Regions from separate parts of the Homo sapiens genome. Here regions 1, 2, 3, 5 and 6 are each reported to be linked to region 4. The links are microRNA targets in miRTarBase. Many come from high-throughput screens and were not tested one by one. Region 4 holds a microRNA gene; each other region holds the end of a gene's coding sequence.
The links. The annotated mature microRNA hsa-miR-151a-3p reads CUAGACUGAAGCUCCUUGAGG and lies in region 4 at 2,061-2,081, shown strand. An mRNA with a match to its seed (bases 2 to 7 or 8) in the 3' UTR can be bound and repressed. Matches are read on the target gene's strand: a 7mer-m8 pairs with bases 2 to 8, a 7mer-A1 pairs with bases 2 to 7 and ends in A, and an 8mer does both.

Region 1 (4,645 bases), not on the chromosome of region 4:
CAGAAATCATGAGCTGGCCTCCAGGGGGCAGGTGAACTGGCCCTGCTGGGTGATCACCACAGCTGCCAGCCTGTTTTATTTTTATTTTTTGAGACAGGGTCTTGCTCTGTCACCCAGGCTGGAGTTCAGTGTCAGGAACGCAGCTCACTGCAGGCTCAGCCTCCCAAGCTCAAGCGATCCTCTTGCTTCAGCCCCCCAAATAGCTGGGACCACAGGCGTGCACCACCATCCCCAGCTAATTTTTGTATTTTTTGTAGAGACAGGTCTCACTATGTTGCCCAAGCTGGTCTTGAACTCCTGGGCTTAAGCAATCCACCCGCCTCAGCCTCCCAAAGTGCTGGGATTGCAGGAATGAACCTCCACGCCCCGCCCTGCTGGCCTGTTGTGATGGCTTCTGGTGGTGTGGGGAAAGCTGGGAGCCCTGCCCTGTGCACCTCCCAACATTGACCCCAGCACTTAGGATTACCATCTGTTGTTCAGGAACTTTACTTTACTTCCCTTAGGAAAAAAAGACAAAGAAAAAAAAGAAAAGAAGAAGAAAGCAAAAAAGGCCTCAACCAAAGATTCTGAGTCACCGTCCCAGAAGAAAAAGAAGAAAAAGGTAGAGAGTTCCTGGGGTGTCTCAGGCCAGAAAACAGACCCAAACCCAAGCCCCCTCCTACACACCCAGACCTGGTTCCTGCCCCCTTCCCATTTTCGGGGCCCAGTCGGGGGCGTCAGGGGTTGTGACACACCAGGGAAGAGGCTGGCAGGGCATGTTCCCTGAGCACATGGAAGCCGTAGAAGTGGCCTGCCGGAGGTAGAAGGGTGTTGGGGAAGGAAGGAGAGACTCCCCCCAGCACAGGGAAACCAGGTAGACTGTGGCAGGTTTCCAGGTGAAAGGAAACGTTGCCTGGGCTGCGTGTGCCCCAGCTGGCAGGCTAGCCCTGAACAACAGCTGTCCTCACGGCGCGGGGCCTTAGCACCTCAGACACAGATGAAGTTCTCACCTTGGCCAGCAGGGCCTCAGCTGTATTTAGGAGAGCTGAACATCTGTTTGCCTCTGCCCTTGGAGGTCGCTGCAGACCCAGTATCTATTCTAGGGGAATTCACTAGTCCTCAGGAGGTGGGGGCAGCAGTGGGTGGGGAAAAGCTGCAGGTCTGAGAGCCTCTCGTACTTCCCTCCTCACAGAAGAAGACAGCAGAGCAGACTGTATGACGAGCACCAGCACCAGGCACAGGTACGCTTCCCAATCATTCCTGAGCATTCAGGGTGGGAGGACAGCTCTGGTGTCCCCTGTGGTCCCAGAGAGCCAGGCAGACCTGATAGGTGGGCTCTAAGGGGAAAGGAGGCTGGGGAAAGAGGTTCTGTTGCCAAGGGTCCATGGGGCCACTGGGGTGACATCAGGAGCTGGCACTGCAGCATCAGAAGGATCCAGAACAGTAATGGCAGTGGTGACACCGAGTGCACCTGGGTGCAGGGGTTGTGCATGCTTTAGGGGGTGTGCCCTGGGATGGAGCCTGTTTGTAGGTGAGGTCGGATACAGCTTGGTTCCTCCTTCACTTGTGAGCGGTTCATTTTCCTCATGATCCTGTAACTTGGGGGCATTTCCTTTTGGGAAGGAAGATGGTTTACTCAAGATGAGCTATCACCATGGATCTATGCTTCCCTATGGAGGACAGGCCCTGCCAAGTGGTGGTGACAGTTAGCTGCTCCACCTGGCTCTGCTGGCCCTGTGGTCACCCAGCCTCCTGTAAATGGGGGTGATGCAGAGCCCGCCTCCTGGGCCAGTGGTGAGGCTTATGTGAAGCTAAACTAAACACTAAAGGACTCAGCCCAGTTCTCAGAACATTCCAAGTGCTAAAAAATGTCCACTGTGGTTAATGCCTCCCCCCTGCATTGGAGATGCCAGATTTCATTTTCCTTGCAGGGGAAAAGGGTCAGGAAATTTGACATCTGCATGTGTTTCCTTCCCCTAGGGATTTCCTAGCCGAGCAGTGGCCATCCCCATGCCTCTGACCTCCACCGACCTCTGCCCACCATGGGTTGGAACTAAACTGTTACCTTCCCTCGCTCCACAGAAGAAGACAGCCAGCTTCAGGGGTCCCTGTGCTGGCCAAGCCAGTGAGCCTGCGGGGAGGCTGGTCCAAGGAGAAAGTGGACCAGCTCCCATGACCTCACCCCACTCCCCCAACACAGGACGCTTCATATAGATGTGTACAGTATATGTATTTTTTTAAGTGACCTCCTCTCCTTCCACAGACCCCACATGCCCAAAGGCCTCGGGACTTCCCACCACCTTGCTCCACAGATCCAGCTAGGCCTGACCTGTGCCTCATCCCGTGCCGCTCGGTCTCTGGCTGATCCCGAGGCTTTGTCTTCCTCTCGTCAGTTCTTTTGGTTGTGTTTTTTGTTTTTTTTTTAATAACTCAAAAAAAAAATAAAAGACTTGGAGGAAGGGTGCAAGCTCCCAGTGCATCTGGGGCACATGTTTCTTGGAAGGGACTGTCTCGCCGACACTCGGGATTCCCTCTTGCCTGCATGTTGAGGCTATGGGTGACCGTGGTTAGTGGGACAGGCAGTGAGCAGTGAAGTGCCTGAGTGCCGAATTGGTGGGGAAGGCTTCCTGGATGAGGTGGCATCTAAACTAAAGGATGGAACTAAAGGATGGTCATGGTTGATTTCCTGTTGCCAGAGTAAGTCATGTAAATACCCAAAGACAAGAAATGGAAGGGGCTGAGAATCCTCGAGTTAGGCCTCGAGCTAGGGGCAGGCTCCCTGGAGGTGCCTGGTGAACAGCTGTGGCAGGCACAGCAGGTCTAGGAAAATCGGAAGTGAGTTGCCCCTCAAATCGAGCTCACCATGGTTCTGTGGTGGTGAGGGCAAGAAGTGGATGAACATGAAAGACAGGATGATGTCTTGGGTGTGGACTGAGGGAGGGGAGGGATAGCAAAGGAGGTGGTCTGCTGCTCCAGCCTGGAAATGCAGAAGCCCACTTCCCTGGGCCCAGAGCCATGTGGAACACCAGGGGTCCTGGAGATGGTCTCCAGAGCTTTTAGCCTCATGCTGGAAACAGCCAGAGGCAGTGCAGAAAAGGAATGCATGGCTGGAGGTGTCGGAGACCCAGGTTGGCATCCAGCTGCACCCTTGACTCGGGGCCCGGGGCCAGACCCTCCACCATCTGGCCTCTCTCCTCTCAAGCATGTTGCTCTAGAACAGAACTACAGAGTAGTGTCCTCATTGGGCCTTGTTGACCCACAGCAAGACTTTAAACTTAAAAATGGGGTGATTTCACTGCAGTTCTTGATTTCTGGCTCCTCTTAAAAAGATAACATCTGGCAACGGGGGCTGTGCTTCCTCCTGGCAGCAACCAGATAGAGCTGAGTAGCAGTCAGCCCCTTAGGTAAGGCATGGGCACCCAGTTCTCCACAGTCCCCTACTTCCTGTCCATCCTGACACGGAGGCCCTATGTCGGTTGCCATCTGTCATCACATTCACACTGTTCTTAGTATAGAAATGAAATTGGGGACATAGGAAAATGAAAGCTGTACCAAGAAGAGCTTGTGCTTAAACTAGGCAAGAGCCTATTTCTTTTTGGAAGTAGAGTGTTCGTGTGTGTTAAACATGTAATCAAGTATGTCTGTGTCCAAAGACTACAAGCCCCCCCCCAGGCCTGCCTGGCCCCGCAGGCATCTCTGTGGGTTACTTGGGCTGCGTTCTCCCACCTCAGTGACTGGATTTAGCGTCTTTAGTTACCTCTTTAGGATAAATGAACTGGATCTCAACAGAAGAGCCAGGAGCCAGAGTGTTCTAATTACTACCTTTTATTCTAATGTGAACCATGGCCCTGAAAGCTGATAACAAGCTTGGCTGAGCAGAGGGAACTAGGGGTCGGCAGAAAGGATTATGGGTGGAAAACATTGGCTCTTCCTTGGGGAGTGATGCTGGGGAAAGGGAAGAGAGTGGCTCAGCCTGCAGGTAAATAGGCTAGAAAAGCCAAGGCCAAAGGCTGGAGGGGAGAGGACAGTCAGCATGTCCAGCCTGGGGTCTGGGTGTAGGGTTATCCCTTCTCCCTGTGCCTTCCCATCTCGTCCATGAGCCTAGGTCTTGGAGCCTTGTGTTGGAGGCTGCTGTGATGTCAGGAACGGGGATCTGTCTAGCTTTTGGCCACTTCCTGGGACCTCACGCCCCTGTTGACAGATGGAGATTGGGCAGCAGGGCCTTGCTGCATTGTTATCTGCTGTTCCGACTTGGTTTGTCTTGTCCAAGGGTGACGAAAGAGCCAGGCACCAGGGTCTCATGGGATGAGGTACAGGGTGGGAGATGGGGGAGGGGCTGGGGGCTGAAGGGAGCAAGAAAGCTGTAGCTGTGTGGGGCTGGCAGGATGTTGAAGACCGCCTCTGCTGCTCTCACATGGGGACTGGAGAGAGAAGCAGCAGGTTGAGGTTGGGGTCACCCATTTGTTGTCCCTGCCCCTTTCTAACATCCTGGACCTGCAGAGCAGTTAAGGACTGTCCACCCTCCCCTGCCCCCTGCTCAGGTCCAATAATGACCATCATGGATTTGTGTAACTCCCCACAGCCCCCCAACCCTGTTCCTTCGTCTGTGAAATGGACATCCCAGGAATGTTGGAGAGTGGCCCAGCGTCACACTCCTTCACCTGCC
Region 2 (5,000 bases), not on the chromosome of region 4:
GGTGCAACACAGTGTTAGTCATTGTTTTAGTTTTAAGGTGTTTTTTTGTTTGTTTGTTTTTTGTTTTGAGACAGGGTCTCACTCTGTTCCCCAGGCTGGAGTATAGTGGCACTATTACAGCTCACTGCAGCCTCAATGTCCCAGGCTCAAGCGATCCTCCCACCTCAGCCTCCCGAGTAGCTGGCACCTTGGGCATGCATCACCATACCTGGCTAATTTATGTCATTTTTCTTTTTCTCTTTTTTTTTGAGACAGAGTCTCACTGTGTCGCCCAGGCTGGAGTGCGGTGGCGCAATCTCAGTTTACTGCAACCTCTGCCTCCTGGGTTCAAGCAATTCTCCTGCCTCAGCCTCCCGAGTAGCATGCCACCATACTCGGCTAATTTCTGTATTTTTAGTAGAGACAGGTTTCACCGTGTTGGCCAGGCTGGTCTCCAACTCCCAACCTCAGGTGATCCGCCCACTTCAGCCTCCCAGAGTGCTGGGATTACAGGCGTGAGCCACTGCGCCCCACCTATTTTAGTTTTCATATAGACGGGATCTCACCATGTTGCACAGACTGGTCTTGAATTCCTGGGCTCAAGTGATTCTCCCACCTCAGCCTCCCAAAGTGCTGGGATTACAGGTGTGAATGTGCCTGGCCCTGGCCTGTTTTACATTTTTGAGATACATAGTTTAACCCAGGCAAATACATTTCTTAATCTCATGTTAGGAAAATAAGGTAATGTTTGGAGAGGTTAAATAATCTCCCCATGGACACACAGCTTGTAAGGGACAGAGCAAGGAGATAGGACAATCAAAATTGTCTCCAGACATTGCCAAATAGCCCTTTGGGAGCAAAATCGACCCCAGTTAAGAACCACTGCCCTAGACTGCTTTTAGAATTTTTTTTTCCCTCTATTCCTCTTAAAGCACTTGAGCTAAACCCTCTTTTCATTTTTCTCCCCAGGCCCTGTCTCAGCGGGACCCTCCTCACAACAACTTCTTCTTCTTCGATGGCATGAAGGGGAATGGGATTGTGGAGTGCCTTGGCCCCAAGTGAACTCAAGATTTGGCAGCCCCAGAGATGCCAACTGCAGCATGCCCACCTGTATTCCCTGTCCCCTTCCTTCATGAAGGCATCTCCAGGCAAGGAAAACTGAAGTCATTGGCCCGATACAAAACATTTCCTGCAACGAAGGAGGTGGTGCCGACGTGCTGCTTCCCATCACCAGCAGCTGCTCGACAAGGGGCGCAGGGTGGCTGTCTTTGTTCCAGCACTGTTCAGGCTGCCTGTCATCCCGGGCCTGCCAGCTCCCCTGAGTGATGAGCACTTCCAAGCACCCCTCTGCCCTTTCTCTGTCCTTATGCTGTCCCGGCCTCGCCAGCCCTCTGGGGCATTGTGGGAGATGCCTGCCAGGAATGAGCAAGCTCTGTTGCTCGGGAGCCTCTTGTCACCTTCTTGGACTTATTCCCCACCTGATACCTTATAGAGAAAAGTGTGAATTCAGGTGGAGAGTAGGCCCAGGCCCCATGAGGCACCAGTGGAAGCACAGCTCCAAGTTCAGACAGGTGCCCTTAGAGAGGAAAACCATGACAGGCAAATGCATTTCCTCTGGAGTTTGAGACCCTGACAAACAACAGGTGGCATCTGGTGTGCTGTTCTTGAGTTTTCGTTTAGGATTAGTTGAGTTCCAGCTGGGTTTTGGGAGAAAGGAGATGCTACCAAGTCTTGGATGTTAGGGCGAGACCCTGCAAGTTGAGTATTAGAGAGCTTGTCTTTCAAGGCAGGTTCCTGGGGCTTCAGGGCTAGGAGGGAGGAGCCTGCCCTTTTAACAGAACCCCAGTCACATGCGGCTCAAGTCACTCAGAGGCTGTTGCATTTCAGGGCTATGTTGGTCCTTTGTTTACCTCCTAAACCACAGCTGTTTGTGTTTCACATATGTTGTGAATTTTCCTTGGTTCTTTTTAAAGGAATGATAATAAAGTTACTTGCTTTAGGATTTGCTTGTTTTTCTTCCACTTCAGAAGCTTCTGAGAGGGAATGGGATGATCCTACCAGTTGCCTTTTCAGACCTGAGGCTCTAACTCAAGAGATTCCTCCTCTCCCTCACCATTCCTGCCACCATTTTTTCTGGGTGATGCAGCAAGAGTTAAATTGTTCACATTCTAGAATGTGTAGAAGCTTCTGGCTCCAGTTGTCTAATGGATAATTCAGCTAAATAGTGGCTATTTTCAGTGGCAAGAATTATAATAATAAAGGGAAGTCAAAAGTGATGCTTCATATGCCCCAAGTGCCACAGCCGCTACGGGTCAGAGCTTTTATTGGAAGACCAGGTTTGCCTTGATGCAGCCAAAGTGCGTTCCAGTTCACCCCACTCTTGCTTGTGTTTCTTCTTTATGTAAATTGTGTGATGTTTCAATAAATCAGTCTCTTTCCTATTCTGATCCTGCAGCAGTTAGTCGGGGAGAAAAGTGGTCTTCACTACAGAAGGGCCTCTGTTCCTCAACCCTGCATCACCTGCTCCCGCCGGAGGTGAGACAGGGGCTGCATTTCGGAAAGGATCCGTGTCTCGCCACCTTTAGTGCAAGTCAGTGGCGTCAGGGTCAGCAGTTACATTGCTGCATGAATTTCACGTGGTCTTTAAATTCTGAGCTAATTATACTCTTGACTGTAATGTGCAGCCTTGGTCACAAGGGGGAGCAGGTGGGTCTGGATTGATAAAAACAAAATTGTAGAATCGTCCCGGAAGCTTCAAACTTTTCCACCCTGTACCTCTAACGGCAGAGATTAAGTCACCCAGAGGACCCCTCAGGAATCGAGGGGAAAGCTGCCAGCCCCAGGCAAGAAATGTCTAGTTTCTACAAATTTCATAAACTGCCACATGATGTTTGTATTAATCATAAAAATGAAGAAAAAAAGGCCAGGCGTGGTGGCTCACGCCTGTAATCCCAACATTTTGGGAGGCTGAGGCGGACGAATCACGAGGTCAGGAGTTTGAGAGCAGCCAGGCCAACGTGGTGAAACCCTGTCTACTAAAATTACAAAAATTAGCCGGGCATGGTGGCGGGTGCCTGTAATCTCAGCTACTGGGGGAGGCTGAGACAGGAGAATCACTTGAACCTGGGAGGCGGAGGTCGCAATGAGCTGAGGTCGCACCACTGCACTCCAGCCCGGGTAACAGTGTGACACTCCATCTCAAAATCTGCAGTCAGTCAGGCATGGTGGGAGGCTGTGGCGGGAGAAGCACTTCAGCCCAAGAGTTCGTGACCAACTTGGGAAACAAAGCAAGACCCCATCTCCACAAAAAAAGAAATAGCTGAGCATAGTGGCTTGTGCCTGTGGTCACAGCTGCTTGGGAGACTGGGGCAGGAGGATCACTTGAGCCCAGGAGTTTGAGGCTGAAATGACCTGGATTTCACCACTGCACTGAAGCCTGGGTGAAAGAGTGAGACACTGTCTCGAAAAAAAAATCCCAGCACTTTGGGAGGCCGAGGCGGGCGGATCGCGAGGTCAGGAGTTCAACACCAGCCTGACCAACATAGTGAAACCCCGTCTCTACTAAAAAAAAAAAATACAAAAACTAGCTGGGCATGGTGGCGCGTGGCTGTAATCCAGCTACTCAGGAGGCTGAGGCAGGAGAATCGCTTGCACCTGGGAGGCGGAGGTTGCAGTGAGCCGAGATCGTGCCACTGCAGTCCAGCCTGGGCAACAGAGCGAGACTCCATCTCAAAAAAAAAAAAAAAAGTTATCTTGACGTATGTTCTATTAGCTCATTACAGGTGTGGAAGAGATGGCTTAGGTTGCAGGTGGTAAGTTTAATGATAACAACCAATGGTCATTATACCCATGCAACCTGCCTGGTACTTTTCAGAATCCTTGTTCTTTGAGTTGGAATCCCCACAGCAACCCCATGGGGATAGATGCTGTTCTCCTACCCATACTGGAGATAAGGAAACAGGCTCACCTCACAAGCAAGGGAGAGATGGAAATGGCGCTGACTGGGAAAGCTGCGGTGCGGGGCACTCAGTAGAGATTCATGTAGTGGCACGGCTTGTTCGCTCAGTGAGAACAAGATTTTGGGCTTCCCTTCACAAGTCCCTGAGACCCAGTAGTCACTGGAAAACATCATGTCGGCCTTCATAAAAGAGGGCCTTCAACTAGGTCCAAAAGGGTGGGTGGATTTGGTTCCTAAGCTTGTACGATATTCAAGCAATATACAAGCATAAAGAGAAGATTCCTCTCCGCTGCAGGGCACAGCCTGTCAGCACAATGTTGGCCACATAATAAGAGCAGCTGACTTCACAGCTAAACTGCATTTTGGAGAGAAATATGAGATGCTTTTTGGACATGTTAGCTGTATCCACTTTCTTTTTTTCTTTTTCTTTTTTCTTTTTTTTTTTTTTAATAGACGGAGTCTTGCTCTGTCACCCAGGCTAGAGTGCAGTGGTGTGATCTCGGCTCACTGCAACCTCCACCTCCTGGTTTCAAGCAATTCTCCTGCCTCAGCCTCCCAAGTAGCTGGGATTACAGGCCCCGGCCACCATGCCCAGCTAATTTTTGTACTTTTAGTAGACAGGGTTTCACCATGTTGGCCTGGCTGCTCTCGAACTCCTGACCTGAAGTAATCCACCTGCCTCAGCACCCAAAATGCTGGGATTATAGGTGTAAGCCACAGCGCCCAGCCTAGCTTTATCCACTTTCATATCCACTCCCCGGAGGTCACCCCTGTTAACTGTTGAGAGTGAATCCTTCCAGACTGCCATGTTCAAACCTAGACTCTACCACTCAGCCATGTGACCCTCGCTACACTACTTTCTGTTACCCCATCCCTAAAATGGGTAGAATAGTGGCACATTCCTCAGATATGTGGGGATTAAAAAATCAGTCTTTGAATCAATATTGCTCAATGTTAGCTGCTATTTTACATATTCATAAATAACTTTTTCTCCAATGTGCTTTTTTCTCAATATGTCTTGGAGATCCTTGTCAGTATTTCATGCATCAAATTCCATAACCAA
Region 3 (5,000 bases), not on the chromosome of region 4:
AATTATAAAGTAGCTGTAATCTACACAAAGGAAGAATTCCTACACATGGAATTAAGGAAAGCTGTTTTCTCTCTTGGCTGATGTCAGCCTCAGACATTTAAAATTTGTTTTTCAGACATAACTAGAGGTATAGTTTTCCCTACACCTCCTTTGCAGATAATTATTTTACCTTTATGAAATGCCATCAGACTTGTTAGACTTATTTTTGTTCAAATGATTGCCATATATCCCTGTTACTTTTAACTATGTGATTTAGAGCTCAGTAGTGACAAATTTACTGCCTTTGCAGGAATTTATATGATTTTATCTAAGAGTAAATAAGAATGGAAAACTCCAACACTGGTATTTTCCCAAAGATTTTTTTTTTTTTTTTTTTTGAGACAGAGTCTCGCTCTGTCACCGAGGCTGGAGTGCAGTGGCATGATCTCAGCTCACTGCAACCTCTGCCTCCCAGCTTCAAACAGTTCTCTGCCTCAGCCTCTCGAGTAGCTGGGATTACAGGCACCCGCCACCACGCCCAGCTAATTTTTTGTATTTTCAGTAGAGACAGGTTTCACCATCTTGGCCAGGCTGGTCTTGAACTCCTGACCTCGTGATCCACCACCCTCGGCCGCCCAAAGTGCTGGGATTACAGGTGTGAGCCACCACGCCCGGCCCAAAGATTTTAATGTAGATATTATACATATTGGAAAACAGCCATAGATGTAATAATCTAGCTTTCTAGACCCTGATTCTTACCCTTATCACTATATTTCTTTAAACATTATTTTTAACTTGCATTACCTTAAAGCAGAATATCATGTTAACATCCTACATCAACATTCACTCCCATGCGTATTTCTTTTATTGTTTCTCAAAACTAGATAATTTTGTCTTTTACATTTCATTCTCTGTTTTTATTTTCAGAAGTTATTCTTCCAACACCTGAAGGTTCTACCATTTTGGTTTCCAATGCCTCTTTGACCACATCAGTGCCCACCCCTGTTATAAATAGTACTTTTACCCCTACAACCCTGCAGACTATCTTTTCAGTAAGCACTTCTGAAAACAGCACTTCAGCTTTAGCTGATGTATCATGGACCCAATTTAACATCATCATTTTGACAGTCATCATCATTGTTGTGGTGCTGCTAATGGGATTTGTGGGGGCTGTATATATGTACCGCGAGTACCAAAACCGGAAACTCAATGCCCCCTTTTGGACCATCGAGCTGAAAGAAGACAATATCAGTTTCAGCAGCTACCATGACAGCATTCCCAATGCAGATGTTTCGGGATTGTTGGAAGATGATGGCAATGAAGTGGCTCCCAATGGGCAGCTGACCCTGACGACGCCCATACATAACTACAAAGCCTAAGGAGCTAGAACTGTTCTGAATTGTTAAACCACAGTGCTTGCTAAGACAGAGTCAGCCCCTGGGCCAGACAAAGCCTGGCTAGAGTTTGCTGAGAAAGCAAAGGCAAATAGTGCATCTGAAATTTTCAGGTACAAATTTGTAATGCGCTTAGCCTATCTATTGCTCTTAGTTTTCCCATGAAGATCTGAAGCGTTCACTGTCATTAGGACTTGAAGTAAAGTATATTTTTGTACCAAACCACATGGGAGTATGGAAAGGCTGAACCCCATAGTGCAGCCCAAAACCACTTTGACCTCCAGATAGACTCCTGGGGAAGCATTCACCAAGCCAGTGGTAACAAGATGATGAATGTGGAGGGGGAAAAGACTGCTGGAAGACTTCATCTCCATTCCTGAAACATTTTTTTTAAAACAGTGTCAGGGATTATATTCGTTTTACTATACAAAAGGACATCATTGAGGAAAAGCTTGTTTCTAGGCTGTATCACAGTAAATAATCTTGATTGTTTCTAGAACAGGGGTAGAAAAGTCCCAAGATCTTCAGAAGGGCTTGGTTTTTTCCTCCCAGGATTCTTGCTCAGTGATGAGTTGAAAGCACAGGATAAGCTTCTAAGGGAGGAAGGCAGCATTGGGGAGCAGGAGGCTGATGGTCCTCCTCAGGGTCTCAGTGTAAATGATAAATTGTCTAAAAATAAGGAATATTCCTGCCTCTAGAGAAATAAGGTGTACATAGTTAATGTAGCATATCTGGTCGACGTTGTATTTGTATCTATTTGTAAAAAAAAAATCATGTCATATTTTATCATCTGGAATTTATTTGTACAGCAGTTAATGGTGTTGTAAAAAGAAAAATATGGGGATTGCTTAAAATACTGTAAAATAGATGGCAATATTGCTAGAGCTGGGACTCTGGTGAGCATCCGTCATTTTTAGTCCTTCTTGAGGACATTGCTGAAATTTATAAGAGGTCGAATGTTTCTTTCTTTCCTTTCTCAGTCTAAAAGTAGAGTTATATGCTCTTTGACTTACTATGATTCAAGCAATAGATTTTGAAGTCAGTAATCGTTAAGCTGGGACATAGGATGCATTCTCCAAAAACATTAATCTAATTAGACATTAGCCACCCTATATATTTTACATAGATTAATATAAAACATATCCTCATTAAAAAATGTTTTTCTTGAATGTAAAAGATAGTCTTCCAAAGGATAGAAATATTTTAGTTCCAAGAGAAAAGCCATCATATTACTTGGGATCTGTAGTTTTCATGCCTATGAAATATTTATAATCCTCCCTCACCCCAAATAAAAAATCTCCTACATGTGAACATAGCCTGTCACTCATTTGCCATGAGGTATGTGCCATCTCCCTGCAGTGCTATAGTTCTCCCATTGTCTTCCTGTCTGGTTAATGAGCAGCTTTGTAGATGGGTGTGTCTAGTTAGTTCTTGCTTTTTGATGGAGTTTTTTCCTAGAGGCCAACTACTGTTGCTCTCGTTTATTATGATATTGACATTTTGGGTTAAGCAAGGTGGGTGGGAAAGGTGGTCAGATGTTAAATATAACTTATTAGGAGGAACAGTGAACTGTGAAGTGGTTAGAAAAAAAATAAAAACTTCTTATTAGATTAGACCTAGGAAATTCAAGCTGACCCCTTTGCCTAACTTCCCTAGAGAAAAACCTAGAACTTGGTCATCCCTTTATAGGAGACCCCTAAGTTGTTCTCAGGGTTTGGAGATGATGTTCTGGAGGGAGTACAAGCAAATAATCTACTTCTGGTAATCTGAGGGTGCTTTGCGTATTTGGCCATTGCTCAGAAGAATAGAGGTTACATTATATTACATTATATGAAAATTATTTAGTTTTTCTATAGCCCTTTGTAGTTTGCAAAGCACTTTTCCATATGTGTGTCCTCTCTTCCACACCATAGCCCCCTGAGGAAGTAATTGTTGTCCCCATTTTATAGATGAAAAGGCTGAGGCACAGAGGAGCTAAATATCTTGTTCAAGGCTATACAATGTGTGTGATTATTAGGCTTGGAATCAGGGCCTCTAACTCTAAAGCACATGTTTTTTCAACTATATGCAGAAATTGCCTAGCCATGGACACAAGAAAGCTGGGAGGAAGAGTTCTACTTGTGGATGTTTTTAATTTTTTTTAAATATCAGGAGCAATCCAGGGCCATACAGCTATGAAGCACTTAGTGAAAAGAACACAAGAAGATTTACTAACTGAAGTTAGTATTAGTGATTAGAAAACAAAACTGCCAGTTTGTGCTTCATTAAGGTGAACTCATCTCTCCAAGCAGGAAGGGAAAATTTGCTTTCCCTAGCAGTTGCTGCATATGTGTGTACAGACTGCACAATTCTAAGAAATTGTGCAAAATGGCATACCTGTCTTTCTCCCAGATACACCGCCCCCTGCCCCCCCCAAAAAAGGTCAGGATTAAAGGTGGTGAGAAGTGAACATTTATTAAACAGAAGTTAAACCAATAGAGAGAAAGGAGGTTTGTTGGAGTCTAAGAGGATTTTGACCATGTAGAAATTCCTTGAAACAGACCTTAAAAGGTATTGAAAAATTGAATCACAAAGAAAGTTTACCTTTAAATACTTGTTAATGGCTCCTAGATCATGGTTATAATTTTTCTCAATGGGAAAAAAAGTCTTAAAATTTGTTTTAAATAAGATCCTCTAATGTCTCGAGCTTTTTGATTCTGGAAATAATTTGCTTTAAAATATAAATCAATCAGAAAGTGATCTACCACTGAAATCATTCTAGGAAACTAGCATGGGATGCACTGCACAATGTTCTTTCCTCTAAAGGCATGGGCCCCATAAACTGTGGCATCTGGCAGCAGGATGCCATCAGTCCTTTAGAAAGCCTAATTTTGGGCCGGGTGCGGTGGCTCACGCCTGTAATCCCAGCACTTTGGGAGGCCGAGGCGGGTGGATCACAAGGTCAGGAGTTCGAGACCAGCCTGGTCAACATGGCGAAATCCCGTCTCTACTAAAAACACAAAAATTAGCCGGGTGTACGTGCCTGTAGTCTCAGCTACTTGGGAGGCTGAGGCAGGAGAATCACTTGAACCTGGGAGGCAGAGGTTACAGTGAGCCGAGATGGCGCCATTTCACTCCAGCCTGGGCGACAGAGCAAGACTCTGTCTCAAAAAAAAGGAAGAAAAAGAAAGCCTAATATTGGGAGAATGTTTGTGTAAGGATTGGAAATCTGTTTATTTTTAAATAAGATAGCACTGATGTGAATCTTATTTGGAAATTACAGATACTGCCATTAAGCGATGCTTTTATCTTCATTAATTCATTTTGGTAAGCGCCTATGCATTTCTGATGGTTAGGTGCCCTAGGTAGTGTTAAGTATGTCCGTGTCCTCCCTTACTCCCCTCTCGCTCCCTCTACCCTCTATCCCCTAGGGTTCTTTTATTAATGGAATTTCTCCAGTTATAGAGAAAAAAATGACATTTGAAAACTAAAGCTCATTTATATTAATACTAAGGTCCTGTGGGCCTAGTGCGTTACTCTTCCCAGTGATACCTAGATTTTAAGAGTAGAGAACAGAGGAAACATGGGATGAGAGGAGAGAGGTTTTTTAGACAACATTTGTAGACACCTCAAATTATATCACTGTTC
Region 4 (4,000 bases):
ATTGCTTGTTCAGGTGCCATTTTGTGGCTACTACTTTGTGCCAGGTACTGTTAAACCCCTGGAGGAAGCACGCAGGGACATTAGTGTGCTGAATCCCTCAGAGAAGCATGTGCATACTCTACCCTGTTGCCTGGCCTGGAGAGGTTCTTGTTCGCTTGTGCATGTCCCCAGCTACACTCAGAGCTCTTGACGGGCATCATTGTGTCTTACTGATTTCTGTAGCCCCAATGCCAAGCTTAGAACCTGGCACCATATAAGTGCTCAATAAACATTTGTTGAATTGAATTGAATTGGAGTCTAGAATGAGACTTAATACTGTAATAAACAAGATACTGTAATATAACACATAGGCATGAGAAGCTTTATTATATAAACAATACCATGGTTCAGTGTGTGCTGTGTCACCTGTTTTCACACTTGGGGACTTCCTCCATTTTATGTGAGTTTTTATGGGTTTGTTTTTCATGCTGTATTTTAGTCTTTTTCCTAAAAATCATCAACTGCAGGGTCCAGGCCTTTCACCATCTAGCCCAGCCTTCTCACCACATGTTCAAGCTGTTCAACCTGCTAGACAGGATTCCTTTTAAGGAGAGTATTTCAAAGAAGAATTAAGACCTATAGGTAGAAGCACAAAGGATTCATCCAGTCTGAAAATGTTTGCTAAGCACCTTTGTTATTCTAAGCTAGGTTCTGTGGGTCCAACAGTGAACAAGACCCAATCCCTGCCCCCAGAGAGTTTAAAGTCTGGTGGAGGAGACCGAGGTATCACTGGTTATTACAATACAGTGAGCCCCACATTGGAAAGACCAGCCACGCTCTTGGTCTCCGTCCCCATAACTCTCACACACCGGCCTGGTTCTACTTTTCAAGGCCCCATAGAACAACCCTACTCTGCCTTTCACACGATAGGCCTTCAGGGTAATTCTAAACAGCTTCCTTACCTCCTCTTAGTTTCTTCAAGCCAAAAATCTTCAGTTCCTTAATTAATTCTCATATAACTTAACTGCCTATTCTCTCACCTTTACAGCTGGCTTTTGGACATGCTTTATTGCATGTTGTTTTGCTCCTATTTGTTCCTCCTTGATCTTTCCTCAGGATTTGACAGATTCTGTCCTTGGCATTGTTCCTCTCTGATACCAGTTCTATCACCCCACCTCCCTGGCATCTCTTTCTACCTCATTGACTTGCCATCTCTCCACCTTTACCATGAATATTAACCAAATTTCTGTTTTCAGCCTCTTATTTTCTCCCATTTTCTCTCATTACTCTTCCCAGGATGTCTGACCCATTCACATGGCTTTGCTGCTTACCTCTGTCTGTCTATAGTTCTGGTCCTGCCCTTTTCTCAAGTCCCAAACCTACATTTTAAATTGCTGGCTGGGCATCATGTTTATCCAGAAAGCAAGCTGTTACATTCTCTTCTATGCCAGCCCTTCCTCCTCACTTCCTCCAGGTTGGAATAGTGCCTTTATCTTCGGCACCATCTTGGAGTCATGCTTCACTCCTTGTGCCTGCCCCCCACCCTCCATCCCACGCTCTTTTCCCATCTGTCTGGCATGACCAGCTTAGTCAATCTTCCTGAAATGTCACTGGAAAAATAACTCCCCTGGTCAAAACAACTTTCAGTGGGGTTTTGTCACCTTTTATGTTTGGGTAAAGGCTTCCACAGTAACATTTAGGCCTCATTTCATTATGGCCTGAGATTGTCTTCTCATCCCTTTCACACACAGTAGCTAAACTAACCCTCCTGTCAGCCCAGAATGCCTCCTTCTTCATTTGGGGAGATCTTACCCATCTTTCTCGGCTTCTTTCACGCACTGGGTCTTCTGTGACTTCACAGCTGACTAGCCTTCACCCTCTGAGTCTCCAAAGCTCTTTGTTCTTCTTGTCAGGCTTACCCTATGCTGCTATAGATGGCTGCAACCCGTGTTCAATTCAGTTCGATAAACACTGTTGAGCACCTACAGTAGCTGAGCCTGGTGCTAGTCACTGGGGCAAAGATGACTAAAACACTTTTCCTGCCCTCGAGGAGCTCACAGTCTAGTATGTCTCATCCCCTACTAGACTGAAGCTCCTTGAGGACAGGGATGGTCATACTCACCTCGGTGTTGCCCAAACCTCCAGGCCAGTAGCCTAGCTAGCTAGATACAGGAAGAGTCACCCAGGCACTGAATTCAAGGCTTAGAACATATGAGTGATTCTTAATACTAAGGAATGCTCCACTGAGGTAAATTATCTCCAAAAAGTATCCAATACATATTTTTAGAACTACATATAATTACTTTAAATAGGTACCTGTAGTATAATTTATGGATATCTTCTTATATACTACTAGCACAGGTAGTTGAGCATTCATTCATTCTGCATTGTTCTGTTTTAGAAATGGTGTTTAACTTTGCGTTTTGAACATATACAATTAGGCTACCAAATAGGCCACCATTTTATATTATAAAATGTCACTATATAATATAATTGCTTACTTGGACATTTGCATATAACAGTGTATCACAATAACTAAATAGGTTATTAATTTTTTTCAAAATTTTTATTATTTCCAAGATTTTAACAAAGAAATAATAAGTTTGGATAGCCCTTTGGTCGTTAAAATTATGGTAGTTAAAAATGTTTCCCAAATCCCATTCTTCTTCTTGACCTCGAAAGAATTCTCCTTCCCTACCTTGAAAGAATATTTGCAAGTAGACTCAAATTACTGTGGGATTCCCCTCATCTTTAACTGGAGTGTATGCGTGTGTATTTTATTTTGTTGAGGCGGGGTCTCCTCTGTTGCCCAGGCTAGAGTGCGGTGGCACCATCTCTGCTGCCTGCAACCTCCACCTCCCATGCTCAAGTGATTCTCCCACCTTAGCCTCCTGAGTAGCTGGGACTACAGGCATGCACACCACACCACCACACCCAGCTAATTTTTTGTATTTTTGGTAGAGATGGGGTTTTGCCATGTTGCCCAGGCTGGTCTCAAACTCCTGAGCTCAAGCAATCCACCCACCTTGGCCTTTCAAAGTACTGAGATTACAGGCATGAGCCACCATGCCCAGCCTTGTATATTTGTTTTTGACTATATTAGTTGAGAAGTGATTTTTGGTATGGAACATGTTGGGCAAACTCATAGGAAAATCACCTTGGTCCTACTTTGATGAGGTGATGTCTGTGACTCAAGGAACCTGTCCTTCCTACATCCTGTTTACTTATTCATAGGTATGAATTCATTGAGAAGTAGAATGAGATTAACCTGCCAGTGGCCTATTATCAAGTATAAAAAATTCCTCAATAGGAATACTTTCAATTGATCAACAGTGAAATTTTCTTATAATGCGTACTCTAGCATTTTTGTGCTTTATGACTGTCAGGTTATAAGAGCGCACCAAATATTTTTTGAGTGAAAAATCATTTAGCCGGGCGCAGTGGCTCAAGCCTGTAATCCCAGCAGTTTGGGAGGCCGAGGCAGGTGGATCACCTGAGGTCAGGAGCTCGAGACAAACCTGGCCAACATGGTGAAACCCCGTCTCTACTAAAAATACAAAAATTAGCCCGGCGTGGTGGCAGGCACCTGTAATCCCAGGTATTCAAGAGGCTGAGGCAAGAGAGTCGCTTGAACCTGGGGAGGCAGAGGTTGCAGTGAGCCGGTATTGCGCCATTGCACTCCAGCCCGGGAGACAAGAGTGAGACTTTGTCTCAAAAAAAAAAGGGGGGGGGGGGTTTAATTTAATTCCTGGTTACTTCAGTTAATTCTTTGTTAGGTACTATGACAGGGAAACCATAATAAACAGCTTTATTATTTGCCTTTTTGCAGGTATGTTCAAAAATAATATGTCCCAACAGTACTCTTCTTGACTAAGGTGTTGGTACCACTATTTTAAAAAAGAACATCAGCTTTATCTCATATTAGAAAAATATTTTAGGTTAATGTTAAAATTCTTAAATATATTTTAGGCAAATTAGGGCAGTAAACACAATTATCACTTTAAAATTTTGTGTTATGATT
Region 5 (4,885 bases), not on the chromosome of region 4:
GAATAAATGTTTTTGTTTACACAGTTATCCCCAGGTTGGACTTAGGAGTTCTTCTGACAGCATCACAAATAATTAGAGGATGCTTAAATTTTTTAAATTGACATTAATCATAGATACTTATTGGGCCATTAGAGTCTAAAAATTGGCTCTGAAAACTAAGACAAAACAAAAGAGAACTATATGTTTATTGTATAAATATTTACTCTCTTTTCTTATCTGAAATACATACTGTGGAATCATAAAATTTTATCATATATAGCCGTGCCCCATCTGCCACCCTTCCTCAGGCACCACCCACACCCTATTTTCAGATTAAAAACTGCCCATGGAAGCGAGACTTGCTTCAAGTCCTTGAATTAGTAGGTGAACCCATGACTTATGACTTGCAGTCTAGTTAATTTTCCACTACTCTTGATTGCTTCCCCCTAAATAATCAGGAAGTAGTAAGTAGGTATTTCCATTTTAAAAATAAAATGTTTATTTTCTTACAGAGGAGAAAAGCCATACTCCTGTGGCATTTGTGGCAAATCCTTCTCTGACTCCAGTGCCAAAAGGAGACACTGCATTCTACACACTGGCAAGAAGCCTTTCTCCTGCCCTGAGTGTAACTTACAGTTTGCTCGCTTAGACAACTTGAAGGCTCACTTGAAAATTCATAGCAAGGAGAAGCATGCTTCAGATGCCAGCAGCATTTCTGGCAGTAGTAATACAGAAGAGGTCAGGAATATTCTTCAGCTACAGCCATATCAACTCTCTACCTCGGGAGAGCAGGAAATTCAGCTTCTCGTAACCGATTCTGTACATAACATCAATTTCATGCCCGGTCCTAGCCAGGGAATCAGCATTGTGACTGCAGAGAGTTCCCAAAACATGACTGCAGACCAGGCTGCTAATCTTACCCTGCTCACGCAGCAGCCAGAGCAACTGCAGAATTTAATTCTTTCAGCTCAACAGGAGCAAACAGAACACATTCAGAGCCTCAATATGATTGAAAGCCAGATGGGGCCCTCACAAACAGAGCCAGTGCACGTGATCACTCTGTCCAAGGAAACACTGGAACATCTTCATGCCCATCAAGAGCAAACAGAGGAGCTCCATTTAGCTACAAGTACTTCAGATCCAGCTCAGCACCTGCAGCTGACACAGGAGCCTGGTCCGCCACCACCCACTCACCACGTGCCCCAGCCAACGCCACTTGGCCAGGAGCAGAGCTGACCTGTAAACACGTTTGACTGCTTGATTGGGCTCTTCTTATAAGCCAGCTCTGACTGGATTTTGAACGCTTGAAATCAGGCTCTCCACACCATTGACTTGCAGATGCTTCTGTGAGAGCTGTGATGGCTAACTGATGTTTATAATGCCCTCCATCCAGGTAGCAAGATGTGTGTATGTCTTGTCTAAGGTACTGATTTGTATTGAGCATTTCAATATTATTGAATGGTTTTCATTTTAATCTGCAATGTCTCATAAAGACTCGGGTAGTTTTTCTTTGGGGGCATTGATCTCAGTTTTTCTGTAAGGTTTAAATGTTCACAGCCATAGGTTATGGTCTTGCCAACCTCCCCAGTTATGTTTTTTTGTTTTCTAGGACAAAGGGAGTCATTTTGGTTGAACTGGGCAGAATGGTTTGTTCTATTTTCTTATTTTTCTTAGGCAACACAGTTGTTACCACAAGACAAGTCAGGGCTAAATATGACAGATCACAATGTATGGGGAATTTGCCCTTTTAATAATTTCCAGTCCCCTAAGACAAAGTAACCCTCAACGTTTTATCTTTATGCAGTACAGTGGGCTTATTGTGTTAACACTTCAGAAAGATTCAAACTCATAAACTCAGTATTTTAACTCAAAATTCATGTAACAAGATAGCCAAAAGCATAGGATTTCTTAAAATTCTGAATTCGTCTTTTCTGAGAAACATAAATTTACATATTTTTCAACAGAAGGCTATCAAAATTTTAATTAAGTTTAAAATACAAAATTGGATCAAGACATTCACCCTAAATTCTGAATTTTTGTCAGAAAAGAGATTTGATTTTCATGAAGGTAAAGCTTTCTTCACTATTCTGGAACATAAAACTTTATTCAGTGTAATTTAAGTCTTATATATACTCTACTGAATTCTAACTGATCTCCTGAAAATGTTGATCTACGTGTTGTGTCTGATAACTTTCTGGAGATGGAAGCTTATAATTCATTTTTATTGCAGACTAGTTAAATCCCACAAAGTGAATATCTTCTCCTAATCTTTCCTTTTTTAGAGACAGGGTCTCACTGTATCACCCAGGCCAGAGTGTAGTGGCACAATCATTGCTCACTGTAACCTCGAATTCCTGGGCTCAAGCAACCCTCCCACCTTAGCCTCCCTAGTAGCTGGGACTACAGGGATGTACCACCACACCCAGCTAATCTTCATCTAATCTTAAAACTTTGAGCCTCAGAGACTTTGTAGCCAGCATGTGTCTGTAATTGTATGATTTTTAAATCATCATCAAAAGATTAAATTATGTTTGGGTTAGGTTTTCAAGCTAAGCTTATTGAATTCTTTTACCACTTTCATGTAAGCTGGTAGGGGATTTTTGAGAAAAGAAGGTGGGCACTAGTATATCTAAATTAACAATGCTGATGGGGAGTAGGGGGTAATCTACTCTAAAATTAATAGAGCCTTTCCATCAATTGTTTTGTTTTAGACATCCTTGATTTCTCCCTAAATCAAATAAGTTATTTGGAGGTTAGAGTAATAGAGAATTCTTCAGGTTTGAGAGAAGATAAAAACATTTTGGTTGCATATTTGCTAAGCTATATTTTATTATATGTAATTCACAAAACTTCCAAAATGATATATATCTTATATGTATCAACCAAACTAATGTTAAATCAGGCCTGACTAGAGCAAAGATAACAATTTTTTACAAACACTGTTAAGCCCTAAGTATTATTTCAGGTTCTCGTTTAAACTGTTTAATTTTATTCTTAAAACACAAAGTTTTTACCAACTTTTCAAAGCCCACCAATCCACATTTTCTCCAGGAAATTAAATATTTAAGTAAGTGAGTGTTTACTCACTCTGGATAGCTAGGTGATTATTCAGAAAATACGGTTACATAGCTATTTATAAGTCAAGTTTCACTGGCTCTATAACAGTCTACCTCTACACTAAGAGAACTATAACATGAACAACATAGGTCACTTTAAATGTTCTAGTAGCAACTTTTAAAAACATAAAAAGAAGCAGGTGAAAATGTTAATAAAAGTTTATTTAATCCAACATTTGCCAAATATTTCAACATATAAAAATATATTAGTGAGACATTTTACATTCTCTTTTTCATACTAAGCTTTCGAAATCTGGTGTGTATTTTACACTTTCTGCACATCTCCATTTGGATGCTAATGTTCATTGGACATACTTGATCTGTATTTAGATTTCATACAACTTACAGTTGAAAACAGATTCTCATATCAAGTAGCTAAGACAAAAGTTTTTTTCAAGAATTGAAATAAGTATCAGTTTAAAAATTTATATTAAATTTATTAAAATTAAAATCCAGTTCCTTGTTGCATGGGACACAGTGCAAATGCTTGATAAGCACATGTGGCTAGTGGCTGCTATATTGGACAGCATGGGCCACCTGTTTCTAACTTGAGCATCAGTCCTAGCTATGCCTGAATTATTTGACCAGCTGTCAAAGAGAAACAAGGAAATGATAGCTTTGTTAATCTAGCCTCTTTCTTTGTCCCACATATACATTCTACCCCTTTGAATAAAAAAGTTCAATGACGCCGGGCGTGGAGGCTCATGCCTGTAATCCCAGCACTTTGGGAGGCCAAGGTGGGCGGATCACGAGGTCAGGAGTTCGAGGGCAGCCTGACCAACATAGTGAAACCCCATCTCTACTAAAAATACAAAAATTAGCTGGGCGTGGTGGTGTACCCCTGTAATCCCAGCTACTCGGGAGGCTGAGACAGGAGAATCACTTGAACCCAGGAGGCGGAGGCTGCAGTGAGCTGAGATCACGCCATTGCACTCAAGCCTGGCGACAGAGCGAGACTCCGTCTCAAAAAAAAAAGTTAAATGACTTGAGTACCCAAAAGAAATGTCGTGAACATGAAAGTACTTCTCATGTGTCCTTGAGAAATGATGTTGCTAGTGCAGTGTTTCACAATTCATTTTCTACTAAATGTGTACCATTTTTTAAATTGTTTTAACAGAAATATAGAGTGTGTTTCTTAGGAAATAGAATGTTATGCTTTGGGGCTCCTGAAACACCTCGTTTTGAAGGTGAATCTTTGGTTTTCTCCCAGAAGAGGGTCTGCCTTGGGATGATTGGAGCTCTTACCATCAAAATCAGTTATTCAAGTGCTTGCCCAGTGCTTCTTGAAACTCACCTCTACTCTGTATTTTCTACAGTTGGTTCTTGTGTTATAAATGTTGTGAGCAACAGATTAAATGATGCTGAGGAATGAAAAAAGATTCTCATTATAAATGCTTACCTAGGATTCTCATTATAGATGCTTATCTAGGTTTTCATAAATGGGAATGTAACAATATCTTCCAAATATGGAGTCCTTACTATTGTCCAGGAGCCAAGCCAGGTCTGTTAAATCTGTATCATATCTTACTGGGTCTCAAACATCTTCCATGTCATGGCACACAGATTTACAATATAGCACCCTCTGGTTGGAGGACTCCAGTCCCCTCTGTTCATGACTGGTATATTAGTTTGCCATGACTACCATAACAAATACCACAGACTGGGTGACTGAAAAAATAGAAAGTCCAAGATCAACGTGTCAGTGGGGTTGGTTTCTTCTGAGGCCTCCCTTCTAGTTGTCTTCCCCTGCCTGTATCTTCACATGTCCTTCCCTCTGTCTTACTCTCTTT
Region 6 (5,000 bases), not on the chromosome of region 4:
GACCTTGAAGAAAAAAAAACCTTTATGGATTCACAGGAAGTTACAAATATAGCACAGACAGGTCTTGTGTGTGTGCCCTTCACCCAGTTTCCACCAGTGGTTATATAGCCATAGTACAATATTAAATCCCAGGAAATTGACACTGGTACACTGTGTTATCACATCAATAGATTTGTGTAACCTCCATTGCAAGCAAGATACACATCCATTTTAAAAAATATATCCATTGTAATGTAAAAGCTCTGAAGACAGGGTAAAAATAATAATTAAAACTGGACTACTGAAGTTGAATGTAGCTATCTGTTCCCAAGTTTCACAGAATGCTAGTTGAAGAATTAAATTTTGAATCTTATGTGGATGCAAAATACCAATGGCAGGAATGCAGATTTTTTAACGTGTATTCTGAAAGTTAACTGTGCCAGTGATGAATCCAACCAGCAAATTAATGGCTTCTGTCAGTGTACTTGGGCCTTTGGCCGTAGTGATTTCTGAGAAGACACTGGATAAGCAGGAGGACCATAGTAGGGCCAGGCTTCAGGCAGCACAGGTGGGTGGCAGTGCAGCAGCTTTGGGGCTGATGTGGCTGCACCAGCACAGCCTTCCTTGGTGCCTCTGCAGTGGTGGCCGGAGGGGCGCCATGCCTGGGGGGCTCTCCCACATCAGAGGCAGGCCTCCAGACTTGTCCTTGGAAATGCCAAGATGTAAAAATAAACCCAGCACTTCATCCTGAGTTCTCTTCCCTCCGCTCAATAGGGTGGCATGAAATGGATGCAGAGAACCCATTACATCAGCCCAGCCCATCCTTAAATAAGCTGGTAGCAGAGAACAAGTTCGGCAAGAAGACTGGAGAAGGATTTTACAAATACAAGTGATGTGCAGCTTCTCCGGCTCTGAGAAGAACACCTGAGAGCGCTTTCCAGCCAGTGCCCCGAGTGCCTGTGGGAATGCTCTTTGGTCAGACATTCCCTCACACAGTACAGTTTAATAAATGTGCATTTTGATTGTAATCTATCGAAGTGATTATTACACCAGTTACAGCAGTAATAGATTCTCCATTAAGAAATAATTCCCTTTTTTAGTCTGTTCATTTCTGTGTATTTTCTAAACAGCTTTACACCCTTGGTGCCTTGGAGCAAACATGTTTTTTGAACCTTGTCATTTTTGTGAAGAATTGCCTAGATTCCTTCTCTCATCAACGGGAAAGTACTTCCTCTGAGAGTGCGAGTGCACCATGCTCACTGTTGCTGCGTGGGAGAGTCACAAGCCACTGGCAAGCAAGTGGTATAGTCTGTGAAGCACTGCAGCGAGCAGCACCTGGATCTTGCCTTTATAAGAACATTTTACTACCTGCAGCTTTGAGTCTTGCCCTACATTTTGGGCATGACATAAGATGTGTCTTTATTCAGCTCGTCGTGAAGATGCTGCTGCTGAATGGGTCAGCATATCTCTGTTTGCATGGTTTGCAGGAGGTCGGTTTTCATGGTCATTCAGTTCCACAGATCTGAATGATTACTGTCTGTCTGTGTCTTTTTTCCATGAGAAATCACTGTTGCAAATTGCCTATAAATTGACTCTACTAAAATAACAATGTTTCAGTCTGAAAATTTGAATTGAAAAAAATGTATAATATAAAATTGTAATACACTCAAATGATTATAAAAGTAAAAGTTGGTAATTTAGGCAGAAGCTATTTCTCCTCTTCTTTGACCTGCTGTTAATTTTTAAAGTGGGAGTGACGGGGAGGGAATGGCAGGACAAGGCATTTGTGTAAAACCTGCCTGGGGCCGTCGCTGCCAGATTTCTTACCAGGAAAGCAGTAATAAGGGCACAGAGAACAATTTTTAAGGAACATCTGTTTCTTCTTTGCCAACAAAGTGAAGTAGTGTAACGTAAGCTTCTTTTAATCATTGGCTTAAGAAAGTGTCTTCCAAGATAGAATTTTGGAGTTGGAAAGACATCAGAAATCCTGAGGTCCAATAGCCTCATTAGCAGAAAGCTTAAGGGATGTGCCCAAAGTCACTAGATATTTTGTCACATAGCCTAGACTAGAACTAGGTTTTGATAAAATTAAGTACAAAATAGCCCATTTGAAAATCTCCGATCCAAAATTTCAGACAGGACTCTCCCTAAAATGGGCATCCTTGTTTGGTGTTCTGGGTCATAGGTCTAATAGTCAAGAGATTTTTTTTCTTCATTTTATGACTGATAAAAGGGAGCTTATTAATTTTAAAAATTTTGAATCTATAACATAGTGGGAAAATAAATACATCGGTGCATTTGTACCGCACATAGAACCTGGGTAGGACACTTTTAGGTTATTCTTATAAAATGCTGCCTAACGAACCAAAGGAAGCACCTGTGAGGCCACCCGCATTTCCATCGCTAAAGGTTACCCTTGTGGTCTGACAGCTCCCTGCTCTCTCAGGCTGGCTCTTGACCTTTGGCATGAGCCCTGGGCCTAAGTGGGGGCTTCACTTCCTTACTGTCTCACCAGAGTCCCCATAGGATGCAGGCCCTTGTCCTGGAAATGGCAGGGTTCTTTCTTGACCACTGAATTCCAGGAAAGATGTAACTCAGCAATGCAACTATCAGACTGCCGGGATGAGAAGGTAGGGGCTGCAGCAGTCTTTCTGGCTGGCATTTTAAAATACACTTTAAGCCTACCAAATAGTCAAAAGGCCTAGCCTCTCAATATCCTTTTATCGTTTTCAAAAAATATTTTCCATGCACCGTGTTTGGGACCAGGAAGGAATTTTGAACATCCTTCCTTTAGACATGGGAGGTGAGGGAGTAGCTTTTTCTTTCCCAACTCCATGTCTCTGCGTTCTCAGGTGAACGTAGCTGCTTGCCACGGAGAGCTCTTGGGGCGGGGGGAGGGAAGGTCATGTCAGTCAGGTTCTCTGCTTCCAAATATAGGCCCGCTGCTGCTGTTTGCTTCAGTCTGTGGTTAAGAACTGAGCCTCAGTGAGAGCCCCAGGTGCCTTGCATCATCCTCCACTGTGTTTTGGCAGCACTTGTTCAAGAGGGAGGGTGGGTCCTGGCAGTGCTGCTGGGCCTGGTGTCACTGCTCTTGGTTCTCCTCACCTCCCCAAACTTGCCTCCTAACCGTCATGAATCTTTTATGACACTTGAAAGTAAAGACCAAGTTTTAGGTCAAGAGGATACTTTTTTTTTTTTTTGAGATGGAGTCTTGCTCTGTCGCCCAGTCTGGAGTGCAGTGTTACAATCTTGGCTCACTGCAACCTCCACCTGCCAGGTTCAAGCAATTCTCCTGCCTCAGCCTCCCGAATAGGTGGGACTACAGGCGTGTGCCATCATGCCTGGCTAATTTTTTATAGTTTTAATAGAGACGGGGTTTCACCATTGCTGGCCAGTTTGGTCTTGAACTCCTGACCTCATGATTTGCCTGCCTCAGCCTCCCAAAGTGCTGGGATTACAGGCGTGAGCCACCGTACTTGGCCACTTTTTTTCCTCTCTCCTATGCTTCCCCTTAGTGATATTTTTATTTATTTATTTGTTTTTTGAGACGGAGTCTCGCTCTGTCGCCTAGGCTGAAGTGCAGTGGCGCAATCTCAGCTCACTGCAACCTCCGCCTCCTGAGTTCAAGCGATTCTCCTGCCTCAGCCTCCCGAGTAGCTGAGATTACAGGCATACATCACCACGCCCAGCTAATTTTTATATTTTTAGTAGAGACGGGGTTTCACCACGTTGGTCAGGCTGGTCTCAAACTCCTGACCTCGTGACCCACCCACCTCAGCCTCCTGAAGTGCTGGGATTACAGGCGTGGGCTACTGCACCCGGCCAGTGATATTTTTATTTACCTATAATACAAGTGAAAGTTTGAGATTAAGAAGAAAACCAGGCAACTTATGAGATGACTTGCTGAAAAAGATGGTGAGCCTCTGATAGCCATCACCTAGACTTCAATTCTGTTTAGTAAAATGGAGTTCTCTGAAGGATCGTTTTAACTCAAGATATCTTTGTAAAATGAAAATCATGGCCCTTTCATGTTCTTAAGATTCACTGTTAATAGTAGTTTTTCTGGGGAAAATGGTTAACTTTTTCTGACATCAATTGTAAAGCGTATTTCCACTTTGGGAACTTCAATGACACAGCGTGGGGGTAGGTGGAACCATGTCTTGGAACTCGGAAACTACTATGAACAAATCCGGTGTTAGAAAATACTCTCAGCTGGGTGCAGTGGCTCATGCCTGTAATCCCAGCACTTTGGGAGGCCGAGGGGGGCAGATCATGAGGTCAGGAGTTTGAGACCAGCCTGGTCAACATAGTGAAACCCTGTCTCTACTGAAAATACAAAAAATTAGCCAGGCGTTGTGGCGGGCACCTGTAATCCCAGCTACTCAGAAGGCTGAGGCAGGAGAATCGCTTGAACCCAGGAGGCAGAGGTTGCAGTGAGCTGAGATGGCACCATGGCACTCCAGCCTGGACAACAGAGCAAGACTCTGTCTCAAAAATAAGAAAAAAAAAAAAAAAAAAAGAAAATGACTCTCCACTGGGTTCCGTTAATAGTAAGTGTTTTGACTAACACATCAGCTTTCAGAAACCCATTTGAGATTCAACTAGTCATCATTGGAGAGGTTACAGCCACTATGTTAGTCACAGCTTATACAACAACATACACTAATTATGCTTTCTTTGTGAGTTATACCGTTCACATATTTGAAACAAGCTTTTGTCTTGTCCCCACCTTGATTTTAATCCCTTTAACATTTCAACCTAAGTAACTCATTAAGTCTACCAAAAGTATAAGGTGTGGCTATAATTTTATGAGACTAATTTTCTTATAAACAGGCATTGATGCTACATAAATAGTAATCGAAAAAATGCTTTGAACAATGAAATCATGGCTGTGCTTTCAGTACTATACTTTGAAAGAATCCATTTGGCTGTGTAAATTCTATTTTTTAAATTGGTCTCACTGTTTCATCATCACAGTTTTAATGTCTATTTTAGCATTTTTTTTCTTGCTACCATTTGAC

Region 1: miRTarBase lists TCOF1 as a target of hsa-miR-151a-3p. The part of its 3' UTR that is shown has no 7-base or 8-base seed match.
Region 2: the mRNA of SAE1 is a reported target of hsa-miR-151a-3p. The part of its 3' UTR that is shown has no 7-base or 8-base seed match.
Region 3: the mRNA of MEGF9 is a reported target of hsa-miR-151a-3p. Seed matches in the 3' UTR shown: 8mer at 2,351-2,358 and 7mer-A1 at 3,872-3,878.
Region 5: the mRNA of ZBTB24 is a reported target of hsa-miR-151a-3p. Seed matches in the 3' UTR shown: 7mer-m8 at 3,142-3,148.
Region 6: miRTarBase lists HADH as a target of hsa-miR-151a-3p. The part of its 3' UTR that is shown has no 7-base or 8-base seed match.

What each region holds. Positions count from the first base shown.
Region 1 is chr5:150,397,851-150,402,495 of GRCh38, forward strand. It overlaps TCOF1 (treacle ribosome biogenesis factor 1), which reads left to right. Exons shown (of 27, transcript NM_001371623.1): 25 at 504-601; 26 at 1,172-1,220; 27 at 1,960-2,443. The coding sequence ends at 1,198. It overlaps CD74 (CD74 molecule), which reads right to left. Exons shown (of 9, transcript NM_001025159.3): 9 at 3,789-4,400. The coding sequence ends at 4,390. Among named protein-coding and RNA genes, the nearest start is that of CD74, 13 kb to the right of the region's middle. RefSeq lists enhancers at 1,129-1,288, 1,569-1,638, 2,199-2,288, 2,359-2,438, 3,999-4,268 and 1 more.
Region 2 is chr19:47,208,211-47,213,210 of GRCh38, forward strand. It overlaps SAE1 (SUMO1 activating enzyme subunit 1), which reads left to right. Exons shown (of 9, transcript NM_005500.3): 9 at 949-2,426. The coding sequence ends at 1,041. Among named protein-coding and RNA genes, the nearest start is that of MIR3190, 16 kb to the right of the region's middle. RefSeq lists enhancers at 781-1,530, 2,522-2,816.
Region 3 is chr9:120,601,548-120,606,547 of GRCh38, reverse strand. MEGF9 (multiple EGF like domains 9) reads left to right here. Exons shown (of 6, transcript NM_001080497.3): 6 at 907-5,000. The coding sequence ends at 1,358. Among named protein-coding and RNA genes, the nearest start is that of CDK5RAP2, 24 kb to the right of the region's middle.
Region 4 is chr8:140,730,668-140,734,667 of GRCh38, reverse strand. It overlaps MIR151A (microRNA 151a), which reads left to right and starts at 2,015; the gene lies at 2,015-2,104. The region is part of intron 25 of PTK2 (protein tyrosine kinase 2); the gene reads left to right.
Region 5 is chr6:109,462,181-109,467,065 of GRCh38, reverse strand. It overlaps ZBTB24 (zinc finger and BTB domain containing 24), which reads left to right. Exons shown (of 7, transcript NM_014797.3): 7 at 492-4,472. The coding sequence ends at 1,215. It also overlaps a transcript of MICAL1 not described here. Among named protein-coding and RNA genes, the nearest start is that of MICAL1, 8.9 kb to the right of the region's middle.
Region 6 is chr4:108,033,486-108,038,485 of GRCh38, forward strand. HADH (hydroxyacyl-CoA dehydrogenase) reads left to right here. Exons shown (of 8, transcript NM_005327.7): 8 at 754-1,686. The coding sequence ends at 872. Among named protein-coding and RNA genes, the nearest start is that of HADH, 46 kb to the left of the region's middle.